Linked DNA regions of Homo sapiens: region 1 is linked to region 2. Evidence: fine-mapped expression QTL. Tissue or cell type: aorta. Region 2 holds a variant in brackets; the other region holds the start of a gene. All regions are shown on one strand. Distances are from middle to middle.

Evidence for each region.
Region 1: ASIC2-AS1 starts here. The variant in region 2 is fine-mapped to the expression of ASIC2-AS1 in aorta (GTEx, PIP 0.95).

The regions. Positions count from the first base shown.
Region 1 is chr17:33,549,941-33,566,408 of GRCh38, forward strand. It overlaps ASIC2-AS1 (ASIC2 antisense RNA 1), which reads left to right and starts at 9,067. Exons shown (of 4, transcript XR_001752838.2): 1 at 9,067-9,282; 2 at 15,560-15,981. LOC112268206 (a long non-coding RNA gene) reads left to right here. Exons shown (of 3, transcript XR_002958160.2): 3 at 8,876-8,897. It also overlaps a transcript of ASIC2 not described here.
Region 2 is chr17:33,587,714-33,604,181 of GRCh38, forward strand. It overlaps a transcript of ASIC2 not described here. Among named protein-coding and RNA genes, the nearest start is that of ASIC2-AS1, 37 kb to the left of the region's middle. The variant A/G (reference allele first, on the strand shown) is at 8,317.

The DNA.
Region 1 (16,468 bases), 38 kb before region 2:
AGACAGCCTTGAGCCAGAGGCCTGGACCAGCTTCACCTCCAGCATTTTGCCAGATGCTTTCTTTGGCTCTGTGTTTCTGGTTTTTCATCTCAGAGCAACTCCTTATCCGAGCACAGTGGAAATTCAAATTTCAGAGTTGTAGGTGAGAGCTGAGATAAATCAGGCCCTCCATGAGGTCCAGTCCAGCTCAGTGGAGTTCTGCACAGTCATTTGGGGCCAGAGGTCCAGATAGTAATAAAGCATTGCTTTGTCTACTCTGTGAATATATTGTAGAAATAGTTTATGGAGGAGTGCAAATACCGGAACGATCTCAAGCAGTGTTGTTCTAAAGTCAACTTTTAAGGCAATATCTCCTTTGCAAGTTTGCAATCACAGTAACTGCTGCGGTCTGCTATGTGAGTGCTGGTGGGCTCTGCTGGGCGACAATGACTGGCAGGCGATATCATGGGAAGAAAGGGCTCACATGTGTGATGTTAACAGGGCGGGACAAATCACAGTAAACAGCTGCAGTGATGTCACAGGACCCTCATGGTTAATTCACATACTGGGATAGCTCTTGTTTACATTCTGGGACAGTAGCAACTGCTTTAAAGCTCTATTGTGTAGTAGTTAAACAGCAGAGGCTGAAGAGCCAGACACTCTAGGTTTGGTCCTGTCTATATCACCTACTGGCTACTACTGGGCTTTGGTTTCCTCATTTAGAGAAGGGATAATTGCATCCCTTGTAATCTAATGGAGAGAATATTAGCAAGAGGTATGATGAGCCCAGAGTGGAGAAAACAATAACTGCTGAGTAAAGAGATTATGGTTTCTAGAGAAGGTACATTTGCAGTGGCCCTCTGTGCATGACTAGGAGTTTTATAAGCAAAAGAAGCTATGGCAAGGACAGGAGTATAAGCATAGGGAAAGTGATAGTAGTGATGGTGGAGAGGAGACTACATTTTAGGTAGGAAACAGCTTTTGTGTGACTGACCTGTGAATTGTAGTGGAACAAGAACGTGAAAAGATATGTTGAAGCTCTGGGTGGGCTTAATGCAAAGCTAAGAAATTTGGACTTTGTTCTGTGCAGGATTTCTTTTATTTTTTCTGGATGATATTTTTATGCCTAGAAAATAAATAATATTTATCTTAAGCTCACTGCAGAAAACTTGAATACCAAGAAAGTGTAAAGAAAAAACAATCATATGCAAACCTACTACACAAAATAATTGCTGTTAACATTTGGTCGGATGTCTTTTCGGTGCTTTTTCGATGAATATGTATGCTGATCTAGCATTATGAAAATGTTATCTAGGGAATATTTTTGAGCAGGAGAGTGTTGTGCAATTAGGTTTGCATTCCGGAAAGATTCTGGTGGTGGTGGCTGTGGGGAGGAGGGCTAGATGAGGTTGCAGCCAGAGGTCAGGACGCTGTTAGGACTCATTCTAGTCCAGGGGAGGAATGATGAGGGCATGGGCCAAGGCAGCACCTGTGGGGCTGTGGAGAAGTGACACCTTCACAGGAAGAGACACCAAAGACAAAAAACTGCTACCTTCGTCAAGTCAAACTTGAAGTCAATGGCTGTACCAATGACCAATCAATGGCCACTAAGAATATCTTCTCTAGGATTCTGGTCTACTCCCAATCAGATGCCCATAGCTTGGTCTTCCATCCTAGAAAATGCTCTTCTCCTTGTGAATAATTAGATTATAGACATCCTTCCCCTAGGACCCCCAGCTCTCTCCAAAAACTTCACTGTGCTTCCTTCAAAACTCAGTAGGAGGGATTTTTAGACTGTTGTTCTGAGATGCCATAGCCATCAGGATCCCTTCGATGTAAAAGCCAGATATTGTCCTCACAAGGGAACTTGGCAGCATGGCTCTTCTGACTCTGCAGGTGCGATGCCACTCACCTCTCTAACCTCAGCCATTGTTCTCCTCCCTTCCACATCCCTCCCCAAACCAGCTGCCACCAAGCTGTGACCAGAAAATGAAGGTTGTCACAAAGGAGCCTGAGGCTGGGTGTGAGAAATGAGATGTGTTGTCTGTGATGGGGGAAGATTGAGAAACTGAATAATTGGGGGCCTGAGAACCAGGCTCTTCAGACAGTCGGGATGGGCTCACAGCATGGAACACATTAAAATCTCATTGCCCACCGCTTCCCGGTAGCCTCTGCTGCCTCGCTTCAAGTGCTGTTTTATAAGCAGTGTTTGCAGAGAGTTAACGAATTTGAAGGGGCCCTGAAAGGGAAAGGGCCTCTGTTGAATAACTTTTCTCTTACTAGAGAAAATGAGAGATGGTTTTCCTTATAACCCAATTTCCAAAGCCTTTTATTACAGAGCGTCAGGAAGATTTGCCTCCTGCCAGGCTGAGTGGGGCTGGGCCAGCTCCCTAGAGAGCTTAGAGATGGTTGGATGGCTGCTGGAGGCATGGAGGGTGGTCAAACTGATAGAATCAATACAATCTTCCCTCAGTAACACAAAAGACCTTTGCCAACTCATGCTTTTTGCACTGATTTTTCTCTCCTGAAACCATGAAATGGGAGGTAGCATGTAGCATGATGGAAAAGTAACAACAGGGACTTGGTGTCCAGCAGACGTGGGTTCCAGTTCCAGCTCTTGCACTTTCTGACATGACTGCAGTTTCCTACTTTGCAAAAGGAAAGACAATATCTGCCTGAAAGGCTGCCATGAGTGAGGGTGAGACAATATGTAAAGTCCTGGTACATTTAGACTCTCAACATCTCTTCTTGTTCATCATAGATACTTTGAATATTTCTCAGCCAAAGATCAACCAGTGGGATTTGTGCATTTTTTGAGGTAACAATTTTAGGGCAGTGATTTGTCAAAAGTTACGTACTGAGTTCCAGACAAAGCTGGAAGCCAGATGGTCAGTGGAACACTCGCGTCAGGTATTCTGTTAGTGCAATGGGCATGGCTGTTAATGGTGGAAATGTTTCCCCAGGGAAGTGCTGCTGGGCTCTCTTGCACCGCCCTGGAGCTGGGAGGGGAAATGCATTTGCAGTGGGTCTCTTCTCCCTCCCAACTGAACCCTGGGCCCACTGGACAATGTCTGTAGAAGAGGGGCTCTGAGCAGCAGGGACATTTGAGTCACTTGTTCTTTGGGGCTTAGGACTGGTCAAGAGAAAGGGACTCCTAGAGTTCTGGCAATCCTCCCCTACCCTGGAGTGGCAGAGGCCCTAGTGGAATTGGAGTCCTTTAAGGAAACACCAAATCAATGCAGTGGAGGCACTGCATATAATCTGAAGGGTAGGGGTCTTCTCTGGGGCCAGTGAAGGTGTTGCTAAGAGGGTGGGTTGAGATAGCACTAAGCTGACATGTGAACAGGTGGTAACTGAATATGTGGTTTATTTTGGGCTTTAGAATAATGAGTCATATTCATAATAACCAATTGAATGTTTCTTGCCTCAGAGCTTCCAGAGACCCCAAGACAACAGGTGTCACAACTTAAAGGGGTAAGACTTGCAAAGAGAGGTAGAATAAACAGCTTTATGTCTCATCACCTCTTCAGCTCTGATAAAGGAGATTGTTTGGGAGGCAGATCCTTTATTATTACTATTATTATTATTATTATTATTTTGAGATGGAGGTCTCTCTATGTTGCCTGGGCTGGCCTTGAACTCCTGGGCTTGAGCAATCCTCCCACCTCAGCCTCCCCAAGTAGCTGAGACTGCAGGCGTGAGCCACTGTGCCCAGCTGAGAAAGCTTCTTTAATACCAGATAACCTTTATTGAGTTCTTTCCATGTGCCAGGCATGGTACTATGTGCTTTCCATCTTTAACCCAATTCATTCTCACAACATTCAATTATGTGGTAGTAGATATTATTATTATTATTATACCTATTTTGGTGATGGAGAAGCTTAGGCTAAGACAGATAAAATAACTTATTCTAATGTCTCACACATACTAATGAGGCTTAAATGACTGTATGAAGCACTTTGTAAAGCAGAAGGACCCAGCAAAGAACTTTGATTGTTCTGCATGAGGCAGGTAGACGTTGAATCTGAGTCCTTCGTTTTTTCCCCTGCAGTTGAGTTCTCTTCCTAGGTGCAATTCAAGCATCCAGAAACAGCAGAAATGCTTAGGATCAATAAATTGGGTGGCAGTGCTGTTAGGCAGTAAACTTAGGGGAGAATTACACAGGGCAGCCATGAAGACCCAATTCTCTAATGCCTGGGGAAACACTTTGCAAATTGGTCGGTGATGTTTTTAACTGCCTTGGATGGTTTCCTATGAGTGAAATTGTTCTGTTTGGAAGGTGGCTTTAGTTGGAGACAGTGTTATTTGATTGTGTTGAATTCAGTTTGAGTCTACACAAATATGACACAGAGTCTCTGTCCTGAGTGGGTTTGAAGTTTAAGTGGGGGAAGGGAGAGAGATAGTAATGGAGTTAGACTATTTTAGCATCACTGCTTATATGTGTGTGTGTGTGTGTGTGTGTGTTTGCACGTGTGCACGTGTGGTGGATGGGGATCAATTGAAGGGAGTGACCATAGAAGGGCTATTGTAAAATAAATGAATCTCTACTATGTCAATAAGATAGGCTTAGGGGAAGGGGTATTTCAAGATGTGGGAAGAGCACATGCAAGGATCCAAAAGGGCCTGGGGTTGCCAGTTCAAAGACCATCAACCTATGTACCAAGCCCTGCTAGTGTCTGTGGCTAGGATCATTTTCAAGTGGTTCTTCTGTCTTCTGTGCTTTTTGAGGAAGAAGTTGACAGGCAAGGGAGGTGGGTCTGAAAGGAAGGAATGGCCAACCTGGCTTCAAAAGAAGCACCACCAGAGGGTACATACAGTCCTCACCACCAGGGAGGATCTATGCCTGAGGCTGGCCGGGGACTGAGCTGGGGGAAGTAAGGCTGAGTGATATTTCATATCTTTCCTTACTGAGAAGTGACTCTCAGTGAGACTTTTAAGACTGAAACACATCTGAAATGAACTCCCAGCCACACTAGACCATAAATAAAAGGGAAGGAGCCTCTCACATATCAAGGTGAGGCTGAGGGTTTTAAATAAATTTTTATCCCAGTACTCTCAATGACTCTGCAAGATACCCATCATTATCTCCATTTCTAGGTGATCAGTAAAAAGTGGATTTGAAGATCAAATCCAGATCTGTCTGGCTCCAATGTCTATGTCTCAAATGCTCATCCTCTCCATGTCTCTTCCGGGTTTCACAATGGTCAGATGTCTCAGAAAGTTATGGGCACGCGGGTAACAGAATGGTCCGTGGCTACCTAACCTACTATTCCCTGAGTTATGCCTGTAGTGCCCTCCTAGCTAGGTCCCACTTATGCTTTTGGTCCGCTGCTGATTAAATGAATGGATTTAGAAGGTACTTGTTTTCCAGTGTAGACGGAGTAGTCCAAATTCTTGTGAAATAAGGACAATACATGTCCTATTAACAGCTGACACCAAAATATCTTTTAAGAATGATACTATTTGTTTGGAATATAACACATTCTTGGGGGTGCAAAGTGAGACCCCCCAGCAACATGTGTATGAAGATAACTGTTCTTTGAGAGGCAAGGTAAAAATTTGCTTGCTACTCTAGAAAGACAGGAAATGAAAAGTGGAAAAATAAGAGGTGATGAGGAGAGAGAGATGGTGAAAAGCTGAGAGGTGCAGGATGTGACAGCCCAAACTTTGAGCTCATGAGTTAACCCAACTCATGAAATTCTTGGTCCAAATGACACTGTCATAAACCTATGAAAGGATGGAGCTTATGCTCAGGTTACCATGGAGTAGAAATTGGACCTCAGGTGTGAAGATCAGGAACCGAGATAAGGAAATCCAGGAGGATGTCAGCAGTCAGGAATTCAAAGCAATCATGGAAAGAACTCTGGACTCCCACAGGCCTTGATTTCGGGGTTTGAGCCGGTTTAAGTACATTTTCAAGGGATACAGGGACTCTAGCTGAGTTCTACCAAATTGAACTTCTAGCACTCTCCAGAGCAAGATGAGATTCAGCTCAGATAAAAGCATTCTGTTTTCCAGGACCTTAGAATCCAGGTATATAACGAAGGCTACCAGGAAGGATCTGTTGATCATAGCCCAAGATGCCTCTTGGAAAAGATACTTATTTGAATATCTTAAAGATGACAGCCGCCCATTCCTGCAATGTGATCCCACAGCAATGTGGACACTGGTTTCCCAGCAGCTTCATCATGAGGTAGACAAGTGTAATGGCTGAGAGTAAAGGTCAGAGCCAGAGATTAAGGGTCTGTGGGTGCATCATGGTGTTACCACCCTAAGGCTATCAACCCACCTTGGACTTCTGCCAAGGGGAGAGGAGACATGGGGAGAAGAGACAATCTTAAAGAGCAAGTTACACAATGAACTGAGTAACTGGAGTTCCTAGAGGGGCCTAAGGCATAAAGCAGAGATGCCTTGGAGTTTAAGAGCCCTGACAAGATGTGGCATAGCTGCCTCTCCACTCACCTTGGCTTGAGAATGACAGCACGTGGGAAAATCTGAGAGCTGGGATGATGTTACAGTTGATTTCTTTCCTGTCTCTATGACCTTGTAATGCCAAGGAGCCACTGGATGACAATTATTTACTTAGAGCTTAAATACGTTTAAATTCAGAAAATTAAGCACAGCTCTCTTCTAGGTGCTTCAGCAAAATTTTAAACTTTTGTGAAGCATAATGAAATAGATTCTGCTAATCTAAAGGTTTGTGGCTGCATCAGACACCCAAGTTTGGTAATGAGTGAGGCCTCTGGAGCTAGAAAGTCACAGTCATCTTTGAGGGAAGAACTTTGTGGAATTTGGAGGTATATGTATTAGTGTTTACAGGTAAGCTAGCCAGTGATGACTATGATGATTTTTCTTTCCATCTGCCCTTTAGTTACCTACATAAAAAGAAGCCATTGATCCTCTCAGCATATTTCCATTTCCCATATTCCCCTAAGTTATTCCCATAAGCATATCTTAGCAAATTCTGCTAGCAGTAGAACATGTCTTGGTCTGTGAGAGGTGCCTTAAGTGTAAGCACAGGTGAGGGAGGAATGGTGGAAGACTTTCTTGCAATTAGCTCTTCCTGTTCTATGCAAGAGCCCTTCTTGGACAGCTGCTTTTGCAGCATCTGTCTCTTTGTTATCATCATCACATTAGCTAGTATTTGTGGAGCATCTTAAGTGGAGCAAGCACTATGCTGACCACTTTCCAAGAATATTTCTACCTTACTTCCTATAATGTGGTAAATATTCCCACCTTATTCAGTATAAGGTGGCCTTTTTCCTTTTTGGTCTCCATTTTACAAATGTTAAGTAACTTATCTAGTCCCTAGCAAGTAAGTGAAAAACCAAGTGTAGTCTCAGGTCTATATTACTCTAAAGTCCCTGCCCTTAATCTCAGAAATTGTTTCCTAGTCACTATCCTCAGAGAAGAAAATCATTGAAATAATTGTATTCATTCATTCATTCAACATCAACTAAATACCTACTATGTGCTAAGTGCAATGTTAACAGTCAAGACTACAAAGATGAACATGGCATGGTCCCTGACTTTAGGAAGCTCATGGTCTAGGCGTGTAAGTAGATGTTATAAAAGAGAATAATAGGATAATTGCAAGCATCTCAACAGAGCATTATGGGAATACTAAAGAGGAACCATTCTGCATTGGTGGAAGGAGGAGTGTTAGAGTTGAGAAAGAAGATGAGCCTTAGAATTCTTGAGATTAAAAACTAAAAATGAAACTCAGCTTGTCCAAGACATATTTCTGCAGGGTTTGCCGTCTGACTATATGATAACACCAATGATCTCATTTTTCAAGACAAAAAGTTAAGCATTTTATTTACACATCCCACTCTATTATTCTCCATATCCAACTCATCACTATATTATACTAAATATCCCTCCTAAAAATCTTTTGAAAACATCTACTTATCTCCAGAGGCATAGCTACCATCCTAGCATAATCTATCATCATTATCTCTCACTTGAATCTTGGCAGTAACCTTCCAACTGGTCTTCCCATTTTCACTCTTTCTTTGAGCTTCCTTTTCTCTGCAAAGACTAATCTGTTACTCATTTGGACCATATTTTTTCTAGTAGAAAATTTACATTTATAATATATATTTTAAAGTCTTTACTAAACCCAACATTTGGGCCTTCTTGGTATCTATTTCTATTAAAGATTTTTTTCTTGCGTATGTGTAGGGTCCAGCCCCACAGGGTTGGTGGGTTTCTCCCCGTGTGTGGAGACGAGAGAGTGTAGAAATAAAGACACAAGACAAAGAGATAAAAGAAAAGACAGCTGGGCCCGGGGGGCCACTACCAGTCCGACCCTGTGGGGCTGGACCCTACACTATGGATCAGAGTTTTCTATTTTTATTCATGTTTAGTAATTTTTGTTGTATCCTGGACATTATGGATGATATGGCATAAATATTCTGGGTTATGTTATCTTCCTCTGAAGAGTGTTCAGTTTTGTTCCAGCAAATTGTTCAGTTTCTGGCTGATGACCTTGAACTTTTAGAGATTTGGTTTTATGCTTTGTTGGTGGAGGAGGAATTCTGTGGTGTTCTCTAATCTCCTCTAACTTCATAGTACTAAAATTTCAAAAATTCCCAGTGAATCTGGTTGAGGATTGTTTTTAGACTTTATTAGAATACATCTAGTGTAGTCCTTACTCAAGGACCAAGATCAGCAAACTTTCTCTTGAGGGCCAGATAGTAAACATTTTAGGCTTGTGAACCATATGGCCTCTGTAGCAAATAATCAGCTCTACTACTGTAACCTGAATGTAAATGAATGGGCAGGATGTGTTCTAACAAAACTTTGCTTATAAACATTGGTAGCTGAACCAAGAGCCATAATTTGTTGACCCTGCCTGAGGACATGATCCTTACTGTTGTTGTTTTTTTTTTAGACGGAGTCTGGCTCAATCTCAGCCTAATGCAACCTCTGCCTCCCAAATTCAAGCAATACTCCTGCCTCAGCCTTCCAAGTAGCTGGAACTACAGGTTATGCACCACCACGCCCGATTAAGTTTTGGATTTTTAGTAGAGATGGGGTTTCACCATGTTGGTCAGGCTGGTCTCAAACTCCTGACCTCAAGTGGTCCACTTGCCATGGGCTCCCAATTACAGGCATGAGCCACCATGCCTGGCTGACATGGTCCTTATTCTTAAGGCATGGCTTTCTGATGTCTTAACTGGATCTCCAGGTGTTAACAAGGCCTCTACACTCTGACTGAGCAAGAACTCCAGTATCTTCTAGCACTACTTGACTTCTAGTATTTTTGCTCCACTCTCAACCTCATAACAGCCCTTCCTGGTAAGCTTTTATGCCTTCTCCCTGTGTCTGTGCTGTCCATGACTCCTACCACAAAGATATCTGGGGCCCCCTTCCTCACAGCTCCCCACTTTATCATGGCCTACCCCACAGATTCCAGTCACTTCAGTAGTCTCAAAATCTGATTCCTGCTTCTGGTCAGTGGGAATGTCATGCTCTATATGGGCTCTGCCCCTCTACATCACAGCTAGAATATTGTCCCTAAATGAAGAACTGAAAAAAATGAGATCTCACTTCATAATTTTCTTTTTTTTCAAAGGTCGTGGTCTTGCCATTGCCATTGCCAGAAAGCAGTTTCCTTATATATTCTGCCTAGTTTTGTAGTCACTTATGGCAGAGGGCTAGCATAGTGCCAGTGTCTCCATTATTGTCAAAAGCAGAGATCCCCACATTCATACCTGCTCTTTTCAATGTATTTTCTACTCTGCAGCCAGAGTGATATTTCCATCTGATCATATCCAGTGCCCTCTTTAAGATTATTCAATGACCCCTTATTGCTTTGAAGATGACATGTAAGGGACAGTATGGGTTTTTGCCCATCAGTAAATTCCCAACACACAGTGTAGTACCTGCCTTATGATAGCTATGTCTATGATATAACTATTTTTGAGTAAGTGAATGAACAAGAAATAACATTTTTGGCTGACAGAACAACATAAGCAAAGGCAGGGTAGCATAAAATAGTATGGAGAATAGTGAACTATTTGGTGAAATTCCAACTCAGGATGCTGACTACAAATTACTCAAAGGCCTCATGTGCAGAAAATGTGACAATTGAAGCCCATGTTACTGTACTGCCATTTTTTTTCAATCACCAAAGGCCTTAAACCATTTGCTCAGCATGAAGCTCTTAAGATGAATACAGCTGTCGAGGCAAGGCAAGGAAAGCTTTCTTGGACCTCGGTTGGCTGTGTTCACAGACAGACAGATGGACATGTGCGCAGGCAGAGGCAATCATCAATTTGCTAAAAATAACACCTCAACCAGTTTTTCACAGAAACCCTAAAGGAAGAGAAAACAGATCGATAGCAAGCATACCACTTGTGTGATGTTGACGTCCTCCCTGATCAGAGAAAGTGAAATCACCTTGGAGACCAAGTTCTTTCCCAGACAGTAGAGGAAATGACTAAGGCAACTGCTACTTTGGAACCAAGGGAGGCCCCAAAGGACTTATGAGTTGATTAAATAAATCTGACAGGAAATTTTAGATAAGGAAAATTGGCATTTATGATACTCAGGGAAGGGAAAAGCAGGATTTGGGCAGCAATGTATCTAGGACCTTTTCGAAGGAAGATTTTTTTAAATGTTCAGAGGAAAGCGAGGTGTGGGTCTGTGGTTTGAGACTCTGGAAAGAACTCAAATGAGGTCAAAAGTTCTCCAAAATATAGTTTCAAAACTGTGCCCTAGAAAATACTCCCAAGGTGAAAGAAGCAACGAATGTGACCATGGAGGTTAGCAGGAGACAGAAATTCACATTTATTGGGTATCCTCTGGGTGAGGGCAGACTGCTTGGGGCTTTCCATGAGTTAGCTCATGTTATCTTTATAATAACTCCATACGTTAGGATCTATTATTCTTATCTTAGAAGTGAAAAACTGAAGCTTAGATAAGTTACAGTATCTGACTGAAGTCACACAACTAATACACAGCAGAACTTCAATTCATACCCAGATTTATCTAATTCCAAAGCCCATAGACCTTCCAAAATACCACATCGCCTCCCTGGTGTGCATCCTGTTTTTTTGTATGCAGTAGTAGGTGGCATACTTCTGGGCAGTCTAAATTTTCAGAGGTCAAGCCTTTCTGTTTCCTGGGCCATAGGGTAATGAATGCAGTGTTACAGAGAAAAGGGAGCATCGTTATGACGAAAAGGGAGATTCTCATTTCAGAAATGAGAATGTTAGGCCCACTCATTACTGGTAAGAATTCTTTCCACTTCCCCACTCATGAAGGCCAACACTAGAATTTATGGATATATGTATGCATATATGTCATGGCCAAAGGTCAAATTCCAGCTTTATCCTGGAGTCCGGAAGGCACAGGTATAACATCCATGCCTGTGTGCTTGGCTTGACATGCTTGGGTTTTAAAAATCAATTAAAGAGAGGCTTTGATCTAACATAGAACTGATAGCACTGGCAGGTGCTCTCTAAGCTTAGTTTCTTGCTATGCAATGCAACATTTATAAAATTCATTCCCACCTGTAGCAAGGCAACCCCACTTTACATTTGTGAAGGGTCTTCAGGAAGGCAAATAATTAGCTTCGGTGATAGAAACAGAAGACTGAACAGAAACAAAACACAGAAACTCTTGTTAGTGGACTCTTCTTCCACTGTCTGCATCGTTTGGAGTGCTGCAATTTGTAGAACACCATCCATTTTCTTATACACTTTGGTGTTTTTATTCAGACAGACATAGGGGGCGTGAGCTAGAACATATGCTGGTGTGAGTTTGGATGTGTGTATTGAAAGAAGAGCAGGCAGGAGCCTGGAAAAAAATATGTGCAAATATGGCAAGGAGCAGAAAGCCCAGCGGGAATTGCTGGTTTCCTAGCAATCAATGACCAATTTCCCTTTGGGGCTATTCCCAGAAGTGCAGATCACTTCAAAAATAGATGCACGTCTTAGTTCAGTGATTGACGTTTTTCTACCAAGGACTGTGTGCACAAGCATCCCTCTAGTGAGATCTTAAGATCTTGGATTTGAGTATTCACATTCCTAAGACTCCTCTTCGAAGTTCCCTCCTCACTTCCCAGACTTCTCGGGTTTTATCTCAGGATAGCTGTTCCAATCCGGAGTGATGAAAGGATTTCTTGCAGGGAATCAGTCAGTGGCAGTTGTTGTTCTCAGGACATTCAGAACCATCCTCCAAGACTCAGCTCAAAGGCCGCTTCCTTTGTGAAACCCTCTTCAACTTGTACGGGCCAAATGCCCCTTTCACCTTTCTCTGCACTTTCAAATTTGACATTTTCTTGTAACACATTTTTTTTTTTTCTAAATGGCTGTTTTTATGCAGGGGCTATCTTTCCCAATACAGTAGAAGCTTCTTGGTTCCATCTGATTTATCTCTGTCGCTTTCTGGTGCCAAGCACAGACCTAGTGTACGCTAGGTGCTTAGAAATGCTTGTTAAATGATTGAACAAATATACAGAGCCTCAGAGATTTCTTATGTGCTTTCAAATTGCCATTCCCATTCCTAATCATCAGCCTTGTATTCCCAGCTTGGAAAAAAGCAGAAGAATCACTGTCTAGGACCGATGGATGTCATTGCTGCATCAGTGTAGGACGTGACATGCTACCTGTCCTGGAGGGCCACCACCAGGAGAGAGCACGTCACACTCTTGTGCATCGGAGTGAGTCTTGCCTGATAAGGGAAGTCACTCTTGGCACCTATCTCTTGGGAAAAAGGAGCGTCTCAGACCAGAGCTGGCATGTGATAGGCTTGGGGGCTTCCTACAGGAATGGGACTCTAAGGCTTAGCCTCCAGAGGGTTGATATGTGAGGCAGCTCCTGGATAAGATGGCACCAACTACTTGGAATGGACCCAGCAGCTAGCTAGGAGGTAGGGGTATCAAGCAAGGGGCTGGATGGGTGGCTGCCTCTGATGACATGTGGATCCCACACTCAGACCACAGGATAAACTGGGCCTGAGTGTCACCCTCTTGATTCATTTTCTGCACTCCCTTAGTATTTAGGCAACTTCCCTGCATACCACAGCCAGTTGCAGCTGCTCCACAGGAGAACCACAGGATTCATGGGCTTAGGCTAGTGGGCTCTAGGAGGAGCTGTTGCAGGGAGATTGCTCAAGGGAATGGGAACTCTTGGGCCAAAGGAACCATGATGGCACAGCCAGCCACCCGTCAAACTGGGGAAGCTTCCCTCTAAAGCTTAAATCTCCAGAGTTTTGCTACTTAAAATGATGAGGCTTTCTGCTCAGACCTTCTGATAAGTGGGAAGACAGTGATACTTCAGTTAGCACAGGACAAGAAGGGAAATGACATTTGCACAGTATTTGTCCTGTACCAGACACTTTACATGTCTGCTAATCCAATCTGCTCAGCAGCCTAATGATGTAGATATTATTTTTCCTGTGTTATGGTGGATGAAACTGAAGCCTAGAAAGAAGTGACTGCTCACAGGATAAACCGGGAATTAAATCCACGCTTCCTCATTCCCAACCCTGGCTCCTTCTGATTCTTGCATTTGAGGCATCTGTAAAAATGTATAGCTCTACCTCCTCCTGCTCCCCATCCCCAGCCCACCACTGGAGCATTTTTCACTAAATGCTGAAGGTACTCTTGGCCTTTACCTACTTCTTATTTTTCTAAGCTGCATGGCCTCAGGTCTGCTCCTTGGTGATTCCACCTGAAACTTCTGGAGTGCATCAGGCTGAATGAGAAAAAGCATTCAGCCAGATCCAATCTTGTAGCCACTGCTCCCAGTTAAAGAACCAGTGAGGGGCCAGACTGGAAATGATCTCAGAGACCATCTAGTAGAACCCCATAGCTTTTAATATGGCGAATCCAAGGCCACATGGGGAGTGACTTGCCCAAGCCCATCTGTAGCAAAGGAGATGGGTGGGATGCTAGAGCCAGGTTTCTCCTGGCCACCTGCCTTATTTCTTGGATGCTTTGACCAGCAGGATGGGCTTCCTTTCACTATTGCCATCTGGAGAGCCAAGTCTGCATTTGACTACAGACATGCATCTCTAACTCTGGTACTCGAATATTTCTTACGAGATTAGATGGCTAAAGTAGAAATCAGGGCCATAGTCCTGACACTGGAACCAGGAGCTCCCTGCAGGAAGTCACATATTCCTGTGGTGGGAGGAGCACCGCGGCAGCCCCCCTGAGGAGGTGAGGCTGAGCTGATGCCCTGCACGGTCTTGCATGGCTGAGATGAACCGGATAAAGGTGCATTGCTCTGAGACACACAGACACACTGCCTTGTCTCTGTCTGTCTTCCTCTCTCGTTTTAAAGCCTGCATCCCTATCTCCAAGTCAGCAATCCAATTAGTGGAGATTTTTAAAGAAAACCTCAATATTGAAAAACAGAAGTCTCAGTTAAGGAGGCCTGCCCTGACTCGTTAATCCACCGGTCAGTTTGCAATGGATCAGGTTGAAGTTGGCTTTCCCCACCACCTCCAGGAGTGCTGATTTAAGGGGATCAAGCCCTTAATCCCAGAGATTAGGATCTTTGCCAGCAGCACCAGTACAGTCCCTGGGTCAGTGGAAAGTCACATAAAGTACAAAACTCTGTTTGGGTTTCCTGAGTTAATTATCCTTTTTATTTGTTGTCTTTCTGCAAATAGGAATATCCAAAGGTTGCAGAGGCTATCCATGCCCCTGAGGAGCAGCATAATGGCACTGCCTGCCATGCACACCTCGAAGTGCCAGCAAGCCACCCCTAGCCTGTTGGGAGCAAGCCCCCCAAAATCTGGCCATAAACTGGCCCTAAAACCGGCCATAAACAGAATCTCTGCAGCACTGTAACATGTTCATAATGGCCCTAACGCCCACGCTGGAAGGTTGTGGGTTTATGGGAATGGGGGCAAGGAACACCTGGCCTGCCCAGGATGGAAAACTGCTTAAATGCATCTTAAGCCACAAACAATAGCATGGGTGATCTGTGCCTTAAGGACATGCTCCTGCTGCAGTTAACTAGCCCAACCTATTCCTTTAATTCGCCCATCCCTTCGTTTCCCATAAGTGATACTTTTATTTAATTTAACATCTATAGAAACAATGCTAATGACTGGTTTGCTGTTAATAAATACGTGGGTAAATCTCTGTTCGGGGATCTCAGCTCTGAAGGCTGTGAGACCCCTGATTTCCCACTTCACACCTCTGTATTTCTTAATTCCTCTAGCACTGCTGGGTTAGGGTCTCCCCGACTGAGTTGGTCTCGGCACTAGTCTGTGTCCCTGGCTTGCCCTTCCCTCCAACTCTGTCCTGCAGGATCTCTCTCTCTCATTAATAATAACTAGCTTTTCCATATGAGCCATCCAACTCTGTCGGCTGGGAACTTCTACCCTCATTGCCTTCTTTGGGTTTTCAGACAGTTATAGGAGTCAGAGCAGATATTCAAATTCTCATTTTACAGGTGAGCAAGTTGAGGTTCTGGGAGGACATAATAGTTAGTAGGTGGCAGGGCTGGGACTTGAAAGCAGAACTTCTGCCTCCATATCTGTGCACACAGCACCACCTCTGCAGTCCCTGTACCATGATTTTCTTTGTGCCTTGCTCTCTGTTGTTTTCCAGAACAGTCCTTAGAGGTAAAGTGGACACTTCATCTGCCTTACCAGTGCCCATGCACGTCCTCATCTTCCTTACCAAGAGAACCCAGAACTGGTTCAGAGATCCAGGCCTCCCACCTCAGGTGACTCCACCCTCAGACTGATCTGAGGATAATCCCATTCCCCCTAACAATGGGAAGGGCCATGTGAACCAATTCTGGCCAATGAGAGAGGGAAAAGAGTCTGTTAGGAAACTTAGGGAAAACCTCTCCTCTCTTCTAAGAGACTCATAAGAAGAGAGCTTCTCTTCCTCCTCTGGACGCTGTCCTGTGTGTAGCACTCAGGACTGCTGAAGACATCTAGGTAACAGCTTGAAGGTGAAACCAGCACTGAGGTTTCCTGATTCCTGGGTGGAGCGCAGACTGGAGCCTAAGCCCTGACAGCATGGTGAGTGTTGACTGTCACACCTGGGGCTGATTCTGAACTTCCCATGATGTGAACTCAGGAGTTTTCTTACTGCATATGCCTGTTAGAATGTGGCTTCTCCTCTTGTAGCTGGGAGCACCCTTCCTGGCTGGGATCAGCCTGCAGGTGCGCTAAGCCCTCCTCACTCAGCTCTCCCTTCCCTTACGTCTTTCTCTGTTACTCTGCCTCTGTCCTTTTGTCAGGAGGGCTTATACATGAAGGGGAACTTGAAGTACAGAATAGATGGGAGTTCTGCCTAGCTCAGGACAAATACTTGGAATACTTGAGATAATTGCATTTTGTTTGTTTGGTTGGTTTTAGTGTTAAGATTCTTTGTGGTGGCCATATTACAGCCTTGGGAATGGTAGATCCTTTTATTTTTCCTATAAAGGAGCCACCCCTTCCACAGTCCCTGCTGGGCCCTTCCCTCTAACCAAGGCTCAGCTGATTGAACCAGGCAGGAACACCC
Region 2 (16,468 bases):
GCATACTCAGTTTCCTCAAACTCAAGGTGGTTGTGATTAAGGACTGAAGTTGTCTACTCTCTCCCCTTGATAGAATTAGAAATGGATGGGCACATTATTACTCTTTTTTCCTTTTCTAGCTTTCAGGGGGATCTTCTATCTAATCCTTCACCCTCTTCACCATTTTCCTCCCACTCGCTCCCAGCCTTGACCATGTAACATAACTTCAGGCAAGTAGATCTCAGCTGACTTCATAACAGTCTCACTTGATTCAGATTTTCCTAAGAGGACAGCCTGGCCTCATTATAAAGATTTAGGAACACCAGTTGGGACTGTAAAATGTTCCCAATTCTATTCCCCACCAGCCAAGTCTGATGCTTTAAACTCCACTATGCAAGGGACATTTTAGTTTAATGCATTGTTGTTCAGAATGTCTCTGTTAAAATGAATGGTATTTTCAAAAGACCATGCATGATGTGAGCTTATGGCTTAATCTCAAAGGTATGACATCACATATCATCTTGGACAACAGAAATCTTGACCTTGAGAGGAGCAGGGAGAATGTTATCATGGAAATAGCACAGAATCATGAGATACCTAGATTCCAGTTCTTGTTTGTCTGTTGCTCTGTTATCCACCTTAGGTAAATTCACTTTCTCTTTCTGGACCTCACCTCCCTCATCTGTTTGATGAAAGAGTTGGATTCAGTGATCTTTGAGGGCCCTTTCAGCTGGTGAAGAGGGATTGGCCACACACTTTGTACAGTTTCATGTCCACATCACTGCCTTCATTCACTCCTTATTTCTTGAGCCATTCTTCCGATCCATATTTATTAAGAACTTTCCATGTGCTAGGAGTTTTCCTGGATGCTGGGAGGGTAGCACTCCTGCTCTCTTGAAGCTTACTGTCGAATGGGGAAGACAGAAAGAGTAAACAAGTAATATAACACCGTGAGACAAGTGTGAGGAAAGAGGAGACAAGATCGCATCACAGGCTCATTTCAGTCCAAGGCAGAGAGGGAAGGTGTTACCTTATACAAGGGGTCAAGTGTGGCTCCCCAGATATGGAGATGTTTGAGCCTGAAGGAAGATTCTGAGTTGACTAAGCTAAAAAAGTGTGGTGGGAGAAGAATCTCTCCAGTAGGGGTATTGGCATGTGTTAAGAACTGTTAGTAAACTGTGTATCATTTATGCTATATCAGGTTCACCATTTCTCAGTCAATTCACTTGCTGTGTGGCCCATTCAAAATGACAATGGAAAGAAGAATCAGATAAATTTAAGAAGAACCTGAGCCAAGTTTATCCAACCAATCACCACTGGGATCACAGTTAATATCTATTTCATTACTTAAATAAACATATACTATACATTTTAAGCATGCCACGTATATCAGATTCATTGCTTTAAAATAGAATTATCAAATTGTCACAGTGTGCTAGGCACTTGGCCAGAGCCAGAGAAGGGAAGTAGAAGAGGACACAGACCATAGTCTCCAGGAGCTCAGAGCTTAGTGTGGAGACAGTTGAGAACATTAACAGCACGAGTACAGTATGTTCCCAGGCACACAGAGGATGCTGACACTATCAGGCTGGGGCCAGGAAAGCTTTCAGAAGGCCATGAGCCCCCTGAACTGAAATTATTTCTTATTTATTTATTTTACTGTGGTAAAATAAACATAACAAAGTTTATTGTTTTAACCATTCTTATGTGTATCATTCAGAGGCATTGAGTACATACACAATGCTATACAACCATCACCACCATCCATCCCTAGAAACCACTCATCATCCCAGACAGAAACCCTGTGCCCGTGCAGCAAACACTCCCCATTTCCCAATCACCCCAGCTCCTGGAAACCTCGATTCTACTTTCTGTCTCTGTGAATTTGCCTACTCTAGACACTTCACATAAATGGAATCACACAGTATTTATCTTTCTGTGTCTGGCTTGTTTCACCCAGAACAATGTCCTTAGGATTCATCCAAGTTGTATTACGAATCAGTATTTCCTTCCTCTCAAAGGCTGAATAATATTCATATATATATATTCACACACCACATTTTGTTTAGCCATTCAACTGTTGATAGACACTTGGGTTGTTTCTACCCTTTGGCTACTATGAACACAGCTGTACAACTGTCTACTTCAGTGCTTGATTTCAGTTCTTTTGGGTGCATACCCAGGAGTGGAATTGGTAGATCATATGATAATTCTATTTGAACTGAATTTTGAAGGCTAAGAATGACCAAGCAAGAGGAAGCAAACACACAGTAGATTAATGCCAAGGGAGGATGCATTTCTGTGGGGTGGTCCACCCATCATATAATCTCTCACTTGTCCCTCCCTCAAAGAGCATGCTGTGTCCCACTGTGGCTGCAACCACCAGCTCAGTTCCTGGTTTCCCTAGAAGTGCGACTCTGGGTTCATTCAGGAAAAGAGGGTGGATCATGGTACCCTGTGGGACATGCCCTCCTTTCCTATATCCTTCCCTACTTCCACCCCACCAAGGAACATCCTGGGTCTTTTCATTCCCCTGCCTACCTCACTGAGTTGTTTTGAAGATCAAGGGGCAGTATGGATTGAAAGTGCTTTATACCTTTTAAGGCAGTAGTAGATATTTGTGGCCATAGCTGTTGCTATTGTCATTGTTGTCCTCTTTGTTAGGACCATTGTGAGCCTCCAGTGACCTCTCCTGGCCTGAGGAAGCAAAGGGGGAGTCATCCCAGCCCCCTGCACAGGTACTTCATCATGGTGAGGAACAGGTTTCTTATTTACTACCAGGTCTGCTAGGCTCATGAAATGAAGCTCAGGTAGAACACCTTCAATGGCTGTGTCTCTACACCACATCCCAATCTCTACACCACACCCCAATCTCTACACCACACCCCAATCTCTATACCACACCCCAGTCTCTACACCACACCCCAGTCTCTACACTACACCCCAATCTCTACACAACACCTCAATCTCTACACCACACTCCAATCTCTACACCACACCCCAATCTCTCCTGACACCAAAGTCTATAATGATAACTGATGAAAACAGAGATTCACTCATCACATCCTGAGACATACAAAGGAAGCCAGGCTGCCGTTTTCACTTAGAGTGTCCACAGGTCTGCATGGGAGAAAATTTCTAGAAATTCTGGAGCTGTAGTCTTCTCCCTCCAAGAGTTGGTTTCCAAAGCTTGGTTTACTTGATTTCAAACATCTAAACCATAGGTACTCAGGAACAGCTGTGTGTGTTTGGCACATTGCTAGGGTCTGTGGGGGTAGAGAAGCCCAAGACATGGGGTCTTAGCCTTCAGTCTGGTCATTGGCTTCATTCCAACGTGCTCAAATGCTTGATGTCTATTTCCTAACACCTCTGTTCCTGTTTTCTGTTATATTCTGCTGTTCTGGGCTCTGAGGGTGACTGCCATCCTCTGCTAAAAGGCTGTCTACTTTTAAGTAACTCCTTTGCTTTCATTTGGGAAAGCTGTCTTTCAGTTACTGGCTGCCTGTCTGGTTTCTACCTATAGTCAATCAAAACACAGGAAACTGTCTGACATGGTATATGATAAGATTCGGAATTGTGTGACACATAAAATTGCCCCAGAGTCCCTGGACCACTCTAGACCTCTGATAGTTAGTAGGGGTCCAGTTTCCCCTTAGGCTCAGAATGGCAAATAGATGCCACTGGGGCTGCATTTCTCTGCCCCCAGCAGACATGGTTAATCCATCTTGGTGCTTTTCAGCTGAGCCAAGGCTTGGCTTCTGACCTTTTCTCAGTGCAAAGCTGTCGGCAGCCGCCATCAATCGATCTGAGTTGGCACTTAGAGTATGTAGCAGACAGCTGGTGTCTCACTCCAATATCCTTTCTGGGCCATCCCCCCAGCTGCTAGGGGTAGTGGGTCTCACAACCCACCATTGCACCTGTCTCCTGAGAATTGTTCTCTGCTGGCCCTGATAGGAGCCACCTCACCAGGAAATGTCTCAGATCTTATGTCTTGACTGATATAGGGGCACAAAAGCCTGATGCCCTTGTCTCAAAGTGGGGCCACTCTGTGATGCTATTTGTACATATTGATATTCCTGGGATCAAGCTGAGAATGACTGTAGCTTTGCTGAGCCCCTCTCCTTGCTCGGTCCCCCTTCCCTCACATCCTTACAGCTTTTGTTTTAGTTTGCTTGCACCTTCAACAGATCACTCACACAAGAATCCTCATCTCAGGGTCTGTTCCTAGAGAAACCTGAGCTAACCTAGGTCATCTGCCATACCTGCCCTGCCTCTGCTCCTATACCTAAGAAGGAAAAATCAAGGACAAGAATAAATTGATAATGTGCAAAGTTTCCCATTCTCTGGCTCCTGTACAGTAAACAAACCATCATCCCACAAGTGTCTTCTGGGCTCTGGACTCGTGCCAGGTACTGTGGTGCGCACTGAGGACACACCAGCACACAAGACCAAGGAGGGCCCCTCCTCATGGAACTTCCATTCTATCTTAGCTTGCTTTTCCTATACCACTTGCATTATCTGTTCCATGTATCTCTGGATTTCAGGTCACCATTGACCCCCTGCTCTGTGTCCCAGTGCTGGCATTCTGCCCTATTCTGACAAAGATCATCTGTCCGATGGTTAACTTAGTCTTAACCTTGGTGTTCACTAGCTGCCGGAGCCTTCTCTGGTTTGCTCTGATTTTAGGCCAGCCTCTATCTCATACCGGGGCATATGTAACTTTGGAGATGGCTGGGTCAGGCACAAGCCTGAAGTGAGGGAAGCTTAGAGGGGGTCAGCATTGTCTATAGTGAGTTAGAATACAACTTACAATACCATCACTGATAACATCCACTTGCATTCAGCACTTTGCGATTTACAAAGCACTTTTATGCTTGCTATCTCATTTGCTTCTCCAACAATCTTGGAAGGTAGACTTAATTAGCTCTGTGTACGTGGTGAGTAAGCTTAAGGATGGGTGTAGATAGGACTGGACTGCGAGCAGGAAATCTCTACCCCGGACCAAAGTGAAGGAGGAGGGTAGAATGGAAAGAACAGAGCAGCTTCTGAAGCATCTCTCAGGAGACAGAAGGTCAAGTAGCAGAATCAAAGACCTTCCACTGCCCTCTCCTCTGTCTTCTGTTCAACTCAGGGAGTAGAAGGTCTTTGACCCTATTGCTTGGCCTTCCATCTCCTGAGAGACTCTTCAGAATCCATCTCTTCTTTCCATTCTGCTGTGCTCTGGTGTTCTCATTATCTGTAGCAGAAGTTTTATAATTTGCAGCTTACAGACCCCTAGAGATTCACGGGAGAGTTTCAGAGAGTTCATAATCCCCTTTCCCCAAATTGAAGTGTATGTCTATTTTTACCTGCAAAGTAGTTCACACATTTCACAAGATCCCCAAAAGCATCTGCAAACCACAAAAGTCAAGAATCACTGCTTAGGTTTTGTGGCCAGGATATACAAAGGACCTGAGATGAGGACGGAGAAAGGTTTTTGATAATATCAAAACATCCACTGCAGATGCAGCAATTGTATGTGCAGGCACAGCTGTGATGTCCATGGAACATCTGGCTGATAAATGAATTTTCCTCTTTCCAGTGGTTTTGAATCATGCAGTGACAGATTTTTAGAGCGAGATGCCTGTTCACTGCTGGGCACTTGATTGTCTCTCTGGGTCCCCTCATTGGTAAAAAAAAAAGCACATTGTGGCTAGGTTATCTTCAAGGGCTCGCCCATCACTGATGTTTTGTGCTTTTGTAAAGAGCCTCAGAAATCATCTCTTTCAGGATCTATTTAAAAGGTTGCAGCATGCAGTGGCTAAGGGTGGGTTTCTGAGCTAGAAAGCTCAGGTTGCAATCTCAGCTTTGCCTCTTGGTCAGGTTTTCTCTCTGGGCCTTGGTGAAATGGTGATAATGATGGCAGCTTCCCGTAGGGTTACTCTGAGGAGGACAAGAGTCAGTCATGTGAAGTGCTTAGACGAAAGCCAGCCACACAGTAGGCACTTCATCTGAATAAGTGTTGACTTTTGTGTAATTTGCACATAGAAGAGAGAACTGAAGGGTAATAAGTAATTTTGAAAAGGTCAATACAGTGAGAAAGAACAAGCCTCAGATTCTTGATTCCTAGTCTGTGCACCTCCCTGACTGCTACACTTGCTATGGTTCTTCATTTCTCCAAAGACTGAAGATTATTCTCAGTATCTGCACAGCCTTAGAAAACCCCATTCCCTAGGCCTGCTAATAAATCAATATTCAGGGAGTTTTAAAGACCTCTGTAAGGGCCAGACAGCACCTAGTACTATTATTTTCTATTCAAATTTTCATCCCTATTCCAGCCAAGTCCCAATGTCCCATCTTTGGACACTGTCCCATCAGGAAGATCCTGCTGTGTCTCAGATGCAAGTCATCTTGCTAGATCTTAGCTCGCGTTTCCTACACCATTTGCATTGTCTGTTTCATGTGTCTCTGGATTCCAGGCTGCCATTGGCCCTCCACTATGTGTCCCAGTGCTGGCATTCTGCCCTATTCTGACGTAGGCCATCTATCAGATGGCTGACTCAGTCTTAACTTTGGTGTTCACCAGCTGCCTGCTTTCAGAGCTGTCTCTGGTTTGCTCTGATTTTAGGCCAACCCCCATCTCATACCAGAGCAGGTACGGCTCTGGGGATGGCTGGATCAGGTGCAAGTCTGAAGTGAGAGAAACCCAGTGAAGGTCAACATTGTCTACAGTGACTTAGAATGCAACTTACAATACCATCACCAATAACATCCTCTTGCATTCAGTACTTTGCAATTTACAAAGCACATTTATGCTCACTATCTCATTTGCTCCTCCAACAATTTTGGAAGGTAGACTTAAGTAGCTCTGTTTAGGCTGGGCACAGTGGCTCACACCTGTAATCCCAGCACTGTGGGAGGCTGAGGCAGGCGGATCACGAGATCAGAAGATCGAGACCATCCTGGCTAACACGGTGAAACCCCATCTCTACTAAAAATACAAAAAATTAGCCAGGCGTGCTGGCGGGCGCCTGTAGTCCCAGCTACTCGGGAGGCCGAGGCAGGAGAATGACGTGAACCCGGGAGGTGGAGCTTGCAGTGAGCCTAGATCGCACCACTGCACTTCAGCCTGGGCGACAGAGGGAGACTCCATTTCAAAAAAAAAAAAAAAAAGAGCTCTGTTTAAGCGGTGAGTAAGCTCAGGCCTAGAGAAATTGAGTAACTTGGGTAAGGTCACACAATTTTTTTTTGAAAAAGTAAAATTGATGGCGAGGTGCAGTGGCTCATGCCTGTAATTCTAGCACTTTGGGAGGCCCAGGTGGGATGATCACTTGAGCCTGGGAGTTCAGACCAGCCTGGGAAACATAGCGAGACGTTATCTCTACTAAAAATTCAAACAAAAAAATTAGCTGGGCTTGGCGGCAAGTACCTGTGGTTCCACCTACATGGGAGGCTGAGGCAGGAAGCTTGCTAGAGCCCTGTAAGTTGAAATTGCAGAGAGCCATGATGGCACCATTGCCCTCCAGCCTGGGCAAAAGAGCAAGACTTTGTCTCAAAAAAATGAAAAATTAAAAAAGGTAGAATTGAAAACCAGGTCTGTCTGACCTGAAGTCCGTTTTCTTCCAGCTATGCCACAGCTGGGACGTCAGAGGGTTATTAGGTCTGGAGTAAGTGGAAAGAAGTCAGCTAGTTTGGGAAGAGCAACAAGATCTCAGGAGACAAGAGGGCTAAGGCTGGGAGCCCGGTTGTTCTAAGGCACTACAGTGTGACAGAGTACACCTTAGAGAGTTGGGCTTCTTTTGCCTTCCCACTTATGTAGCCTTTAACTGCGTAAGAAGCATTGGGAGCCTCAGCTATAGGGGCTTTTATTTCTGTTTCTTCATTTCTTGTCACATCTCCCAGGAAGTTCTATTGTGTCACAGAGATGAGCATAGGCTTTAAAACTAATCAGATCTGAGTTTAAATCTTTATTTTATGACCAAGAGATATTGGGTAAGTTACTCAGCATCCCTGAGCTTCTGTTTCTTCATCTGTAAAAATGGAATAAACACATCTGCCTTGCAGGGGGGTTGTGAAAATTAAATTAAATAATGATGCATCGTTTTCAGGAATACTTGGGGTGGAATGACCCACAAAGGGGTTTAACTTCTTGGCCAGAGAAACCCAATGGGCCTTCCCATGAGAGGCTGGGCCCAGGCCTCAGCTGTGTCTTGCCTTCTCTGGGCTCTACTTATTTTCTGGAGCCTCTTCTGTTGCAAGCTAAATAGTTCCTCCCCCTCAGTAGAGTCTATGCTGTTTCCTCTGGCTACAGACTCTATAATGCTCCTTGCTTAGCAGTTGCTTAGCCAAGCTGGGCCA[A/G]TTAAGCTGCATTCCTCTAATTGTTTTGGTGGCTTTTCTCGGAACTCCCTCCAATTTGTCTACAAATCAGTTCTAAATTTAGACCCACCCGCCAAATCTTGGAGCTCTGAGCTTTTCACTGCTCTAGCCAACCATGAGGCTCTTCTACCATCAGTGATTGAGTTTGGGGGTGGTTCTCTTCCTCTCTCTCTTCTCCTTCCTCTAATTATCAACATGTAGGCATGAAATGACTTTGTGACATGCTTTATTTTGTTTGTAGAGTGCAGGTCCATATTCAGTTACCAAACAGTTATTCGTATTTAAACTCCCAGGAAAATGATGGTAGAGAATTAAAGGTGGGATTAATTTAAATGCACAAATTATTTTTACATTCCAAAACTGCACAGAGAAAACAAACCAATTTTGATATAACGGGGGAGAAAAGGTAAGAGGGTAGGAGCAAGAATAAAGTTATTTGCTCTCTGTGTTTTTGTGCCTCACTCCCTGCACTTTTTCTACCTTCCCAGTTTGCATTCACCAAAGTATCAGCGCCCCCGGCCTTGGTGTGTCTAACACAAAGAACCTGCAGTATCTTTGTCAGGTAGATAGGACCCTCCCAACCCCCAGGAGACAAGATTTCAAAGATCCCTATTCTCCCTCCTTTTTTCTCTCCCTCCTCCTTCCTTTTCCTTCATCCTCTTCTCCTCTCTTCTTCCTCCTCCATGTCAATATCAAATTCATTGCCACCAGCCATCTTTTATGCTAACAGAGTGGCTTATGCTCTTGAAAGCCTTTTCATAGACACAGTCTCATTTGAATTGTACAAGAGTCCTGGGCAGGGCCAGAGCGGGTACATAGACTCCGTTTGACAGATGAGAAAAGAGTACTCCAGAGAGGTTTAGCAACTTGCACAAAGTCAAACAGCTCATGGATGAGCTCTCAAAAAGACCCAGGATTTCTGGCTTCAGCCTTGGTCACAGCTGGTGCTCTACAAACATTTGTCAGATGAGAGAATTCTGATCTCACTGCTGGCTAACGGATCAGATCAACACAGCCAAAGGCTTCATGACAGGCTGGCAGGCTGGCAGGCTGGCAGAGAAGCCAGAATCTTCCGTTGTCTCAGAGCTTCATTCCCATCAACCCAGCGGACACCTGTTGACTGTTCCCAGAAAACCACTGCAGACATGTTTCTTTGTTGTCAGCAGAGTCCCCATGGACATCTCATGAGTCTTTGAGGATGCCCACAGGGCCCTGCAGGGAAGGAGACATGATGGCTGGCTGGAAGAAATGCCTCCACAGGTGGCGGAGAGTTTTTTTCACCTACTGTAGACTCCAAGTCTCTTTCTCTTAGGGCCTCAAAGGCATGTTAGCACATACATTTAACAGCAAGTGCTTGGATCTAACAATATTCTGAGTGCATAGGACATGTAGAACTGACAATCCTGCTTCCCTGTATAGATGACATGTCCCTGCTCTGCAAAATGGGCCTCTCACTTCTATATATATGACTTAGCTTTTTTTTTCAAGAATCAGGTGGGATAAGGAGTTTAAATGAGTTTACAAAACAGAAAGTTCTATATAAAATAGATGATAATTCTATATAAAAACTCCTTTGTTGCTGTAATTACAATAATCCTAGCGGTAAAGTTGACCTTAATACGTGATGGAATCAGCGATGGAAGAGACTTTAGAGTCACGTTTCCCAACCCCTGAGTTTGTGGGTGAGAACACGAAGCTCCAGACAGAAATGATGATCCCACAGGGCCACACAGCAGGTGTCAGGAGGGATAGTTTTAGAACTCTGTCTCCCGGCTCATCCCCTTGTATTCTGTCCTTTTGTTTTGGATGCTGTTTGTAACATCTATTTTTCTTACCTTAATTTCTCCCTCTTTCCTTTTCTTTCCCAAAATTCAATACGTGCAGAATGTCTTCCAAATACTCCTTATCCACAACCTTTTCTTTCTCCGAATGTATCTATTTTATGTCCCATTACCTCACAATCTTGTGATGTTGCTTTAATAATTAATGAATCCATGCTGACAGGTTAAAAAAGAAGAAACCACAATGACCAACTGTGCCACTCCACCCAGAGAGCATTTCATTTCAATAGACACCTTCACATACCTCCAAGAAAGAGAAATGACTATTCATGAAATTTCAAATTCTGTGGCACACCATTTGGGATTTTCTCCAGATTGCACATTGATTAGGGGGTTCATCTCGCTTTTAACTCATGGTTGAATATGTGGCTGCCTTCTCTTATTGGCTAATTGCTCTAACCTTCTGAGCTCTGTGACCCTGACTGATGGCACTGGATATTTCCACAGCCTTGTCCAAGGAGGCCTCCACCAGCAGGGCTGGTTTCTGACACAGAGTGTTTGCAGGTTATTCCATATTCTTTGGGTCAAGAATGGAGCTTGAGCTTCTTTCTGCATGTCAGTAATTAGACCCAATAGGTTCCCAGTGAGTGTGCATGAAATTGAAGGGTGGTGTTTCTTCAGGATGTGTTTCCTGGGTGAAGACTGTATGTGAAAATGTCAGGGCTGGTATCAAAAGAGGATTTAAAAAGAAAATTTTACTCAAGGAGAAGAAGCAAATGGACAGACAATTCCCCACTTGATGTCAGTCATCTGGTTCCTCTTTTCCTTCCCAGCTGGGTCATGGACTTTGCATCTTTTCTTGCATGTATAGAGCCTATTACAGATCCTGAAATTTCAGTGTTCAGTGAATACCAGTGCTGGGCTGTAAGACATTGGTGCCTCCAGGACAAGGAAGGATGTGCCCCACAATCAAAGAAGGGGGACAAGAAAGAATGAGATTTCAGAACTTGGAGGACTTCATTTCAACAGTTTTGGAAATTACCTAGTCTAACCTCCCTCAACTACTTTGTCAGGGAGTCTGAGACTGCCTATAGGGTATGCAGGAATGTGTCTTGCTGGAAACAGATAGCACCATTTGGACTGTGTGAGTGTGCATGCACCTTACGCAATCAACAAAGGGCTGCGCCTGTATGCACACATATGCCCATCTTCTCCACAGGGTGGACAAGCCCAGGACAAGCATCCTTCTCTGTAAAATGGAGCCTTGATATCTGCACTGTTTACTTCACAGGGTTGTGAAGAGGGTCAGTAAGATCATGCTTTGAGACACATAAGAAATATTTTTTTGAAAATGTGAGTGAAACCTTGGTGTGCATGGGATTAGGTGCACAACTAGAGGAAGCTGTGCTTGCTAAGAACAGGCCTATTTTGTGGTCTGGGGAACAAAAGATACCTCTTGCCCTCAACACACAACCCTGAAGGTTGGGGAGGCCACAGCCAGCTGGGAAGGGAGAAAAGGAGCCTGATGAGGTATGTGGATGAGGAGGTTGTGGTGGACAAGAAGGGATGGCCCTGTCTCAGGACATGTAGGAGGCTGCCTTATCTTGAACATTCTCCAGAATAACGGGAGGTCACCTGGGGTGCTGAGGTCCTCAAGGCCACCAGGTCTGGGGCTCAGAACTACCGGGGCTGAGTGTTTGTGTATGTAGATGACAGCTGGCAGATGTGGAGTAGCACATGGGTAGGAAAACAGACTAGGAGAGTGAAAGACATTTGGCTGAGGCTGCATAATAGGATGTGTAAAGTGAGGGACTGAACACAGGCCAGTGTGGCTCCAAACCCAGGATACTCTTCCCAGCATCACAAACAGAGCAGTGGAAGAGAAGAGGGCTGTTCTGTGCTGAGGAGACCTGAAGCCCAAGGAACAGGCCTTCCCTGTGCTTGGGATGAAGAAGGTAGTGGCCTCTGATTGCATCCTTGCTCCTCTGGGGAGGGTTGGTGAGCTCTACCACCCTTCTAGAAAGGATGGCTCAGACTTCCCACTACTCTCCTTTTTCTCCAGTTTCTTTCTCCAGTTGCTCAAGTTCAAATCCTTCCTGTAACCCTTGATTCTTCTTTTTCTCTCCTTGTGAGCTGTTCATTTGAAATATGTTCAGAAACTTAACAGTTCTCGCCATCTTCACTGCTGCCATCTTGTCCAAGCCCCATCATCTCTCTCTGGTCTCGTGCATCTCTCTGCATCCACCCTTACTGCCTGTCATCTTGTCTCTGCACAGCAGCCACAGGAATCCTTTTCATGGGTAAGTCAGTTCCTGCCTCTCTTCAGAGGGAAACCCCAAAGGCCCTACTATTATTTGAATGTGTCCCCCAAAGTTGATGTGTTGGAAACGTAATTATTGCAGGAATGGGCTCCTGATAAAAGGATGGGTTTGGCCTCCTTTCCTCTCTCTTTTGTCCTTGTGATGCCTTCTGCATGTTATGACATAGCGAGAAGGTCCTCACCAGATGCAACCCTTTGACATTGGACTTCCTAGCTTCTAGAACCATGAGCCAGAGAAATTTCTGTTTATTATAAATTACCTGGTCTGTGGCATTCTGTTATAGCAGTGCAAAACTAACACAGAAAATTGGTATTAAGAAGTGTGGCTATTGCTATAACAAATATCTGAAAATGTGGAAATGGCTTTGGGACTAGGTAATGGGTAGAGGTTGGCAGAATTTGGCAGGTCAGGCTATAAAAAGCCTATATTGCAATAAATGAAGCATTAACCCATTTATGCCTGAGGTGGCAATTTTTTTTAATTTTTGCAATCAGACCTTGGTGATGACCTTGAGTGCTAGGATATAAATAACTACCACATGCTTAGTGTTCCAATAATGGAACACTAGGCATAATTAAGGGCAATTCTGGTGAGGGCTCATAAGAAGAAAAAAGTCATAGGGAAAGCCAAAATCTTAGCAACTACTTGAGTAGTCATAATCAGAATGTTGGTAGAAATATGGGTGGTAAAGGCCATTCTGAAGAGGTCTCAGACAGAAATGAGGAAGAAGACATTGGAAACTGGAATAAAGGCCATCCCTTTTATATAGTTGCAAATAACTTGATGACACTGAGGACAATGGACTTTGTGGAAGGCAGAACTTAGGAGTGATGAACTAGGATATCTGGTAGAAGAAATATCTAAGCAGCAAAGCATTCAAGGTGCTGTATGGCTTCTTTTGGCCACTTACAGTAAAATGAGAGAAGAGAGAAATATTTTAAAGATGGGATTTATAATTAAAAGGAAAGCAGAAAATACAAATTTTGTAAATGTCCAGCTTGGCCACATAAAGAATGAAAGAGTATGTTTAGGAAAGCAAACTAGGGTGTATACAAGTGACCATTTGCTAAAGAGACTAATAGAATAGAAGGGAGGCAGGGGCTATTTACCAAAAGAATAGGAGAAAGACCCTGAAGGCATTTCAGAGGTCTTCCAGGATGTCCTTTCCATCTAGGGCCTTGAGAGAAGGGTTTCCAAAGAAGTGCCCAGAGGACCTCAGCATTCACTGCCCTGCACCACCTTTGGGACTCTGCTCCCCACATTTTGGCACAGTACTCTTTGGTTGCCCCAGCTGTGGCTCAGGCAGGCCCAAGTGCAGCTCGTACTCCTGCTTCAGAGGTACACCTTGGTGGTGTTTACAGGGTGCTATTTCTGCAGGTGTGCAGAAAGCAAAGCTGTGGAGGTATCGTGGCCTCTACTTAGATTTCAAATAATGTATTGGAGAGCTTGGGAGCCCAGGAAGAGAACTTATCCTGGAGTTAAGTCACTGCAGAAAGTTCCCACTAGGGCAATTCCTAGTGGAGTCATGGGCATGGGGTACCCAGCATGCAACTCCAGCCTGGGAAAGCTGCAAGACAAGACTCCAACCTGTGAGAGAATGAGTGGATTGAGCCTAGCACAGCCATAGCAATGGGGCTGCCTGAGGCGTTAGGGGCCCAACCTCCACCCTTGTGTGCCCGGGATGCAGGACATGGAGTCAAAGCAGATTATTCTCCAGCTTTAAGACTTCGTGTTTTCCCTGCTGGTTTTTGGACCTACTAGAGACCAGTTACCCCTTTCTTCTTCTCTATTTCTCCCTTTTGTAATGGACATATCTATCCTGTGCCTGTCCCATCATTGTACTTTGTAAGTGTATAACTTGTTAATTTCACAGGCTCACAGCTTGTCTCAAAGCTTCTCTTCAAATTCACAGAAAATAATTTATCTCAGGACAAATCCTTGGGTCTCCCTTATGTCTGATTTAGATAAGACTTTGGAGTTTGGACTTTCGAGTTGATGCTGGAATAAGTTAGGACCTTTGGGACTATTGGGATAGAATGAAGGTATTTTCCATATGAAAAGAACATGAATTTTTGGAGCCAGAAGCCAAATGCTGTGGTTTGAATGTGTCCCCCAAAGTTCCTGTGCTGGAAACTTAATCCTTAATGCAACGGTGTTGAGAGATGGGACTTTTAAGAGGTGCTTAGTTCATGATGGCTCTTGCCCTTGTGAATAAATTAATGTCATTATCCCAGGAGTAGGCTCCTGATACAAGAATGAGTTTGGCCCCCTTCGCTCTCTCTCTCTCATCCATGTGATGCCTTCCACCATGTTATGACACAGCAAGAAGGCCCTCACCAGATGCAGCCCCTCAATCTTGGACTTTCCAGCTTCTGGAACCATCAGCCAATAAAGTTTCTGTTCATCATAAATTACCCAGTCTGTGGTACTGTTATAGCAGCACAAAATAAATAGATGCCCCCACCCATTCATAGGACAAGGCCCTCAATGAGCTGCATCACCCACAAAAGACCTCTCTGGTCTCACTTCTTCCTATGCCCTTCCCCTGTCCTTGCTCACTGGCTCCAGCCACACAAGCCTCTCCTGTCTCAGGACCTTTGCATGGACTGGTCCTTATACCTGGGTGTGGGATCCACTTGACTTATTGCTATAGCTCTAGCAATGGGGCTTAACATGGGTTCAAGAAATAGCTGTGGAATGAAGTTCAACTCTTTCTCTCATCATTCTTTCTACCTTGTACCTTTTTCCTCAGTGTTTTATCCTCCAGAGCCCACTCTAGAATCCTCGCAGGGGCTCTAAGAGGAAGGCCTGAGCCCTTTCCCAATATCTCTTATGCAGAGAGGGAGCTGGAGGGCACAGAGTGTGAACATTTTCAAAATCCCATGCCAGTCTTCCTAGCTCTGCATTTCCCCACCACCTCCAGAAGCCCCATCTTCCTCTGTGTGCCATGCTTTTCTCAGCCCTCCAGGCAAGAGTGATGAAGTCACTGTTGTTATTCACTGTGACTGGTTGTCATGGCAACAGGGCCAACACACATCCACAGAGCCCCCGTTTAGTGTGCACCAGGGGTTTAGCAAGGTGGCAGTGGTGGTGGTGGGAGTGGTGGGGGTGTTGGGCTGCTTGTATGGGTTTCCCCACTAAGGAGGCATCTGGGGAGAGAGCCTGATTGGGACTCCAGGACAGTGGCATGTGCTTACACACTGCTTGGAAGGAGCATGATCCCAACACAAAGGCACCATTAACTGCAGAGAAGCTTGCACAGGGGCCAGCTAGTTGCAGCCCCTGGGAAAAGGTGCTTTTTGGATCATGGCCTGATAGGCTCTCTTCCTCTGCCTGGGACTTGGCTGATCTGGCCCAGCACCCAGAAGAGAAGACAGAGAGAGAAACAGACAAGAGAGAAATAAATGCATGGAAAAGTGAGGACATGAGGCCACTCACCTGTTTAAACCCAGATGTGGGCTCTTGTTAACTGCTGGGGTTGGGTCAGAAAAGGAGAAGTCAAAACTGGATTCTAGATCCTTCCCCTGAGATAAAGGACTGACCCATCTATATGAGTTACATATTAGTTAAAGTAGTATTAACTGCTGTAAAAGATAAACTCCTAGATTTCAGTTATTTAACCCAATAGAAGTTCATTCCCCACTCTACACAAAGTCTAATCAGCATTACTGAAGGCAGAAGGAGTGGAAGAGTGCTCAGGGCCCCAGGCTGATAACAAGTCTGCCAAAATCAGGTGGTTTCCAAGGTTGTCTTGGACCTTGGCATCCAGCAGACAGACTGTGAGGAAAAGCAGAGGGTCACGTGGGAGGTTTTCAGGACTGGTCTGAAAGTGGGCTGCCTCACTCTGCCCACATCCCATTGGCTGGAACTGTCACATGGCCCTACCTAGCTGCAAGGCGGCCTAGAAAATGTAGTCTAGTTATCTGGTCAGAGTCTCTGCTGCAGGCTGAAAGGGAGCCTGGCCCTGGAGGCTGTGTCAAGGAAATGGACTAGAGGTGGACATTGCCCACAGCCAGACAGGAAGGGGCCCCC